2 linked regions of the Homo sapiens genome follow. The protein of the gene in region 2 purifies or fractionates together with the protein of the main gene of each other region. This does not show direct contact. Each region holds a gene or a part of one and is shown on either strand. Other genes may lie near its edges.

The links.
Region 1: the proteins of DEFB104A (region 2) and PTPRG purify together in Homo sapiens (affinity purification with mass spectrometry, with the first as the bait; one large-scale study listed by BioGRID). This does not show direct contact.

What each region holds. Positions count from the first base shown.
Region 1 is NC_000003.12:62,205,071-62,208,570, reverse strand, and holds part of PTPRG (receptor-type tyrosine-protein phosphatase gamma isoform 1 precursor), read right to left. Parts: intron 1-3,500.
Region 2 is NC_000008.11:7,834,798-7,839,436, reverse strand, and holds the start of DEFB104A (beta-defensin 104 precursor), read right to left. Parts: upstream 3,002-4,639; 5' UTR 2,953-3,001; coding exon 2,895-2,952; intron 1-2,894. UniProt on the Homo sapiens protein: Has antimicrobial activity. Synergistic effects with lysozyme and DEFB103.

The sequences.
Region 1 (3,500 bases), on a different chromosome or scaffold from region 2:
ATGCCGACCCCTGAAGTGGAATGTCCCCTTAGCACCTGACTCAGGGCTGAGCCAGAAGATGCAGTCAGTAAACCTTCAGCAATGAGTGTTCACATACTGAGTTTCTGAGCAAGATTCAACCTGAAAAAAGAGTTTCCCTAATTTAAGGAAACAAAAATGGAAAATCCCAGCACCAAATGATGAATTTGTAGATGATGCCCACTCTGAAATGTTTTTGTAGGGTATGCTGTACTGCATAGTACCCCCAAGAACATTTCATTGCATCAGTTGGCTTCTGGGCTCACGCTGTGGCTCCTCAGGATGGGACCACATGCTGGATTTCCATGTAGCAGACATCCAGCTGAGGGCTTTGCACTAAAGAAACGCTAGAAAAAAGCCTGGTGAAAGGGAGGGAGTACACCTAGGCCTTCAAGCCTTCTGAAAGGCTTCTCAGGAAGTTGCAACTCTAGCAATCAACACTACAGTAGAGGTTGACCACCCGCGGTTCCTACCTGGCCCAGGGATGGGTTTAGTTTGGCCTACATTTTTAAAAAGCAGAAATTGTTTTAAAAATTTGAGCTTACTTAAAAGTTGGGGGGTTCTGCACAAAAACCTGGATTTCTGGCTCACTAGGCATTCTCACTGGCAGTAATCTGTTGGAGCTGAGTGAGATGGCCCTCTTTAGAAAAGTCATGTGCTCTTTAATTTGCTGCAGTCCTTACCACTCCCTAATGTCTAACACCTGGTCCTTGTTTCTCATTAGTATTAACTGGTTTCTGTAGGTGTCTGGGTTTGCCACTTCTTCTATAGAAGGATTCCCTTCTTCTTCTTCCCTGGGAGATAATATATTAAAGCCACTACTCACAGGACTTAAAAATATGTTATGAAACACCAAAGGGATTTAAACAAGCTGTTTGGAGATACTCATAAAAATATAACAGTGTGTAACTTTACACATTATCACTCTTTTCAGAGACCAGGTATTGATTAAAGTAATTGTTTTTCCTTAATATGAAGAAAAAATAAATGTGTAACAGATTTAAAGCAAATGTACACACAAAGTCCTTAAAATAAATCACTAACATTAAAATGATGGCGATTTCATTAAAAAATAAATACCATACTGGAGGAGGCAGACAGGGCAAAGGACAGGGTGAATGGAAGTGAAGCAAGACCTGAAGGATCATTGACTGATGTGGGATTTGCTTGTTTTACCTTCAGGTCACTCACGTCCTTTACTAATCAACAGGCACATGCAGATTTCTGTGTAAACCAGGGGTTGGCAAATGACAGATTGTGGACCATATCAGACCCATCGCCTGTTTCTGCAAACAAAGTTTTAATTGAAATACTATCACATCCTCTCAGCTGTGTATTGTCTATGGTGGCTTTTGTGCTACAAGGCAGAATTAAGTAGCTGCAGCAGAGACCTGTGGCCTGCAAAACTGAAAAACATTTACTCTCTGGCCCTTAGCTGAAAAAGTTTGCTTATATCTGGCTTAAACAATCATCACCACCATTTTCAGACTTGAACTGCTTGAAATTTTCAAGGAAGTTTTTTTTAGCTTTCAGAAGTGGACCTTCTCACTTTGCTGAAGGTGATAAGGGAAAGCTCTGATTTACCAGTGTTGAGTTTCAGGAGGAGGTCCTTCTTTTTTTTTTTTTTTTTTTTTTTTTTTGAGACAGAGTCTTGCTCTGTCAGTGGTGTGATCTTCTCACTGCAGCCTCTGCCTTCCAGGCTCAAGTGATCTCCCACCTCAGCCTCCCGAGTGGCTGGACTACAGGCATGAGCCGCTGTGCCCTGCTAATTGTTGTATTTTTTCTAGAGACGGGGTTTCACCATGTTGCCCAGGCTGGTCATGAACTTCTGGATTTAAGCGATCCACCCTCCTTGGCCTCCCAAAGTCCTGGGACTACAGGAGTGAGCCACTGCACTCGGCCATCTGGAGGTCATTTTTAATGGCAGTTACTTGGGGACCAGTAGCTTTAATGTCCACAGACAATAGCAAAGGAAAGGGCTGTGGGGGGCCTCCTCACAGTCACCATCATTGTGTGGCACCTGGGCTGCTGACAGCTCCTATTTGTCAGTGACAGTGAGGGGGTCTCCACAGCCACACCACCTTCGGCATTAAGCATGATCATTAGCTCCACTTTGCAAACGAGGACACGGGACTAAGACTTACCTGAGGACCCTGAGTGAATAAGGGACAGAGCCAACTGGGTTGATCTGACTCCCAAAGCCACTCTGCCAAGATTGTAGATGCTCTCAGATTTCTGTAGGGTGGAAGCCGAGGACCTACACACCTCATACCTGGAGTAGGGAGCCCCCAAAGTTTGCCATCCATTTCTTCTCCCCTGTCTCTGGAATCTGGAACCTGACTCCAATGGCAAGAACTCATTTCCACTTACCTGGGGCGGTCCCAGTCCCTGCCTCTCTCCCATCTCTCAAACTGTAAATACTCCCAGCCTAAGCTCTCAGCAGCCACATTTTTCAGGAATGTGGTCAAACAAATGTTTAAGAGGAGCAGGCTGAGAATGCTACTTTGCCAGAGCCCATAGTCCAGAGGCTGAACACTCAAGCTTGAAAGTCAATTCCAAGTCCACCACCTGTCTTCATAGAAAACACACTGGTCCAAGCCACCATTACCACTGCCTCCTAACTGGGCTTCTTTCATCCATTCCTGCCTTCCTATATCATCTCCACGCAGAGGCCTGAGAGGTCTTTCAAAAAATCAATCAAGTAACACTGCAGCCAAGATCTACCCTGGTTTCTCATTTCTAGTAGAAGGAAATCCTCAGCGTGGTCAACGAGTACCTTTCCAGAGCACCTCCATCAATCTCTAAATCCATCCCCTCCTCTCCCCCTCACTCCCTCTGGTCTAACCACACTGGCCTGATAGCTCCTCAACTGATCCAAATTAATTCCCCACTGTAGGGTCTCTGGACCTGCTGTTCCTGCAGCCCAGAATTCCCCTCCCTGGATCTTTGCATGGCTAGCTCCTTCTTACCACTTGGCTCTCTGCTCAGAGGTCATCCTTGACCACTCAGAGCTACACTGTCCCTCCGCTCCCCAACTGTAGCAATTAAGGCTACTTAAGGGTATGTATTTGTTTACTGGCATATTCTCAAGCTCCCCTACCAGAATGCAAACCCCAAGAGAAGAGAAGTCTGTGTTACCTATGTTCTACTGCCAAAGCCTAGCCTGGTGCCTCTTATACAGTGGGCATTCCGTACATGTTTCTTCAGCGTCTTCAAATGCAAGAAATTCAACTTTTTCAAAGTAATTCCTAGAGGGAATGTCACTGTTCTTACAGAAACAGCTTCCCAAGTGGCCCCACATTTCCTTCACTCAGTTCCACAAAAGGCTACTCTGCACCTTTCCCCCAGTCACAGCTAAAGTGAGCAATACCCACAGGAGACCCCCACTTCAAAAAATTAGTTCATAGCAGCTTTAAGAGGAAAGTAATTCAAAACATGAAAATTTATTCTAAGTTGTATCTTAACATACGAGATCTCAGCTT
Region 2 (4,639 bases):
AGTACAAGGCAATGAAGAAAGGAGTGAGGTGGGCTGCAGTGTGTATCATGCTGAGGGAGTATGTGGAGGTTGAGTAGCAGATATGTGCCTTCTGACATATCTGTGGCAGGTCGCTTTACAACCTGGAGTTAGAGGAGGAAAAAGAGGACAGCATGCTTGCTCAGGGAAAACGAAGCTTAGCGTTAGGGGAGAAGAAGAATAGACTAGGAAGAGAACACAACCTTTAAAATGTTAGACTGTCAGTTTCAAACAAGCCCTCACAGGCCATCTATTTAGAGATGGGAATGAAGGCTCAGAGAAGGAAAGTGACTAATCTGACGTCACACAGCAACTTATGTGTCAAAGCTGGAAGAAAAACCTAGTTGGTATGTCTTACAGTCTCAGTAAACAGAATGCAAAAGGGAGAATGCAGTCCATACACTAAGGCTGAGTAATAAACATTTCCTAAGCAATAAATACATTCCAGGGTAGACTACACTACACTAGTTTCTTTCTTGCATAAGCAATTTTCCTCCTCTGCTCTACAGACCCAGAAAATCTTAGGCAGGTCTCAGGTCTTAGTTAATGTAGAAAGTTTATTTTGTCAAGGTTGAGGACACACCTGTGACACAACCTCAGGAGGTCCTGAGGACATGTGCCCAAGGTGGTTGTGATACAGCTTGCTTGGTTTTATACATTTTAGGGAGACATAATACATCAATCAAGACGTGTAAGATTTGCTTTGTTTTTTTTTTTGTTTGTTTTTTTGGTTTTTTTTGAGACAGAGTCTTGCTCTGTCGCCTAGGGTAGAGTGCAATGGCACGATCTCAGCTCACTGCAACCTCCACCTCTTGGGTTCAAGCGATTCTCCTGCCTCCGCCTCCTGAGCAGCTGGAATTACAGACATGCACCACCACACCCAGCTAATTTTTGTATTTTTAGTAGAGACGAGGTTTCACCGTGTTGGCCAGGCCAGTCTCGAACTCCTGACCTCAAGTGATCTGCAGACCTCAGCCTCCCAAAATGCTGAGATTACAGGTGTGAGCCGCTACACCTGGCTGATTTACATTGGTTTGGTCCAGAAAGGTGGGACTATTCAAAGTGGGGGTGGCGGGGGGCCTGTGGGGGTGCAGTGGGAGTGTGTGGCAGGTGGCCTTCCAGGCTATAGGTAAATTTAAACATTTTCTGGTTGACAATTGATTGAGTTTGTCTAAAGACCTGGGATCAATAGACAGGAATGTTTGGGTTGCGACAAGAGGTTGTATTGTGGAGGCCAAAGTTGTATCATGCAGTTGATGCTTTTAGCTAGCAGGCTTCAGAGAGAACAGGCTGTAAAATGTTTCTTATCACACTTAAAGTCTGTGTTGATGTTCATGATGGAAAGTGTAATGAGGCATGTCCAACCCCCACTTCCTTTCATGGCCTGAAGCAGTCTTTCAGATTAAATTTTAAGAGCCCTGGCTGAGGAGGGAGTCCATTTAGATGGTTGGGGAGGGGGCTTAGAATTTTATTTTTGGTTGACAGCACCCATCCCCAGTCCCTGTGGGTATCTGAGGGGCTGACAGTGTGTGACAGCCAAACTTACCCAAAGCAGGGGTGGCAGGAGAAGAGGCAGGCAGCGCATGTCATTCACCCTCACCCACTTCTGCCACTTCCCTCCCTAATCCTCTTCCTGCTAATGGTCTTTCTCAGAATTCAACTGCAGAGGACAGTCTGACCCAGCCCTCTGCAGCCAAGTGTGGATAATGGCAGCCAGCTCTGCGGTGCATTCTTCGGGATCTGGAGGGATCCCTGACCCAGGCTTTCCATCCCAAGTTCTTTGTCTTGGGATCAAAGGTTGAAGAAAACCTGTTCTTTGATAAATTGCTATCATATTTTAACAGACCTGGAACATGCCCATAGCAGAATTTCACAGAAGTGTCTTTGGGAAATGACACGGGAAGAAAGAAAAAGGAAGAGTTAACCTAAACAGGTACCCTCTGAAAAAAAATCATTAACCCATCTGAATCACAGTGGAGGCACAGCCCGGAAGGGCAAAAAGATGGGTGCTGGGTGTCTGTCAAAGCCCCATAAAATTGACTGAGCAGCTTGGAAGAGAAGATCCGATGGCTTCTACGAGTCAAAACAATTGGTTTCGTCCCAGCACTGCTAGACTTGTTAAGCAACTCTAAAAATCTTATTTTCTCTCACTGTACCATAGAGAATGCTGCTCAGCTTGTAAAAGAAGGGAATTAGATTAGGTGCTCTCTCATATCCATTGCAAATATATTAAGAAATACATGCTTCTGGGGACATAGATTAACGTAGGAGTCAGAAGATTGCTGACATCTCAGTCTAAAATTTCCTGAGCAGAGTTCAAAGGCACCTGCTATTTGTGTTGTCAGTAAATTACGTTCTTGCCTACTGAAATCACTGCATCCCCTTTAACCCTAATCATCTGACTTGATATGAAAAGTTGCAAAATTTAGGAGGATGAGTAGGCGCCCTTTTCTGTGCAGAGTAAAGCTGTTCAGAAGGAGGAGGATGGGGGAAGGCATCTTATTCTACAAAATCAACAATGAATAATTGCTGTTGCCCTGCAATGGAACAAGCATGGCTAGTGAGTCCTCATTGCTGAGGATTCCATGAGGAATTGTTACCGTGTGTGGCCAGGGTGCCAAGGACATCTAGGACTCCTGATCCCTACGTTTCTTTTTTCCTCCTTGAGCTAGTAAGCCTCGTGGCTGTAAGGTGCATACAAGGACTGCCACATACTGCATTTTACTAATGGACCCAATGAAAGCAAAGAGAAAAAAGGCTGAGATTGAAGAAGGTTACTCCATCCTTCAGGATTTATTTTCTAAATCAAATGTTTTTCTTCTCCCCCTGTCATCCCCAGCAACTGTGTATATTTCCAGCTGAGAGTCCCTTTTTACCTGGAAGATCTTGATAGAGTAGAAGAGAAATGGCTAATAGCAGCACAAGTCTCTGCATAATGCTGGGGCTGCTGGCGAGAAGCAGACGCAAGTCGGAGGGAATCACCCCAGGCAGGAGCAGGGCAGGTGTATTTATGGGCAGAGGCTGCTCTTGATTACTGAGGCTTATCAAAATGCAGCGTTCCTTGGTGAACACTCACCAAGGCACAGTGTGGGGGAGGTGTTGGGGCTACAGAAATGCCAGCTGGGCAGTGTTGAGGGTGGGGAGAGAGTATTACCATAGGTAAAGTCCAAGTCACTTCACTTGCTTCCCTGAATCGTTTCTGAAGCAAGAACTGGATTAGATGATCTCTAAGATACCTTCCAGCCTTGACATTCCTCAATTCTGGTGAGAGGACTTTCTCTTCCATTTCAGTACATTTCAGTCAGGAGATTCTTGTTGAAAATTGTGATGTGGCTAATGGAATTGAAGTCCATAGCCCCCAAGACCTCTCTGAAGTAAACATTGAAACAAACATACAATGTCAAGGAGAAGAATGGCATGGAGCGTGGGGAGGTCATAAATGCGTGAAAGGTCCCAGGACATTTCTGTGATAGAAAGAGTGTAGGATGAGGATGACAAGTGACAACAAGGAATACTTGATGGCGGGCATTGTCCAAGGGTGGGATTGTAACCACAGAGCATCAGGCTCACTTAGGGCTTAGGTGAAAAGGAGGACAAGAATGAGAAGAGAGGTTAAAAGGAGACAATTCATGAGAATGCTGTATTTCTAACAATGGCTTCAAATAAAACATAACCTTCCAGAGAGCATACGCCTGGCCCTCAACCCGGGGTGTATGCTCCCTGGATTTAACCCCAACCCCACCCGAGGCAAAACATATAGAGCATATGCTCCTGGCATTTGCCCTTAGGGAAAACACCAGATAATTTTATTTTAAGAAAAAAAAAATACTTCATTTCTCTAAAATGAAGTACTTTAGAGAAAGTAAAAACGTCCAATCTTGAAAGTTGACATTCTCGAATAAGCTCCCCTTATTCTAGAACACAGATTAGACAAAGCCTGACAGACATACGTTGCTTGCACATCCTAAGCAAAATCTAGCAGTCAGTGTGTCTTCCCCAGAGTTCTCACTTAGGGGAGAATGTGATGGAAAACCAGGTCTCCTTTCACAGTAACGAAATAGAATAGAACATCAGAAATCATAAACTATGCCAGTTTGGGTGCTCCATGAAGCATTTATCAACAGGAATTAGAAAGGAAATAAATTTATTGGGAAATGCCTGTGAAAGATAAAGGGGAGCCAGGCGCAGTGGCTCACACCTGTAAATCTCAGCACTTGGGGAGGCTGAGCGAGGGAGGAGGATCATGTGAGCTCAGGGGTTTGAGTCCATCATGGACGGCATAGAGAGACCCCGACTCTACACAAAAAGAAAATTAGCCAGGGATGGTGGTGTGTCCCTGTAGTCCCAGCTACTTGGGAGGCTGAGGCAGGGGGGTCTCTTGAGCCCGGAAGTTCGAGGTTGCAGTAAGCTATGATGGCACTACTGCACTCCAGTGTAGTAGGCAATACAGCAAAACCTTGTCTCTGAAAAAAATAAAATAAAATAAAAATTCAAAACAAAAAGATGAAGGGGAGAGGGAGCAAGATTGAGTAGGGAAAGTCTTCAGAACATGATGTCAATTAACACCTGTGAAAAGGTTTGGAGTCGGGGGAGCCTCAGACTACAGTGCAGAAAATTTCAG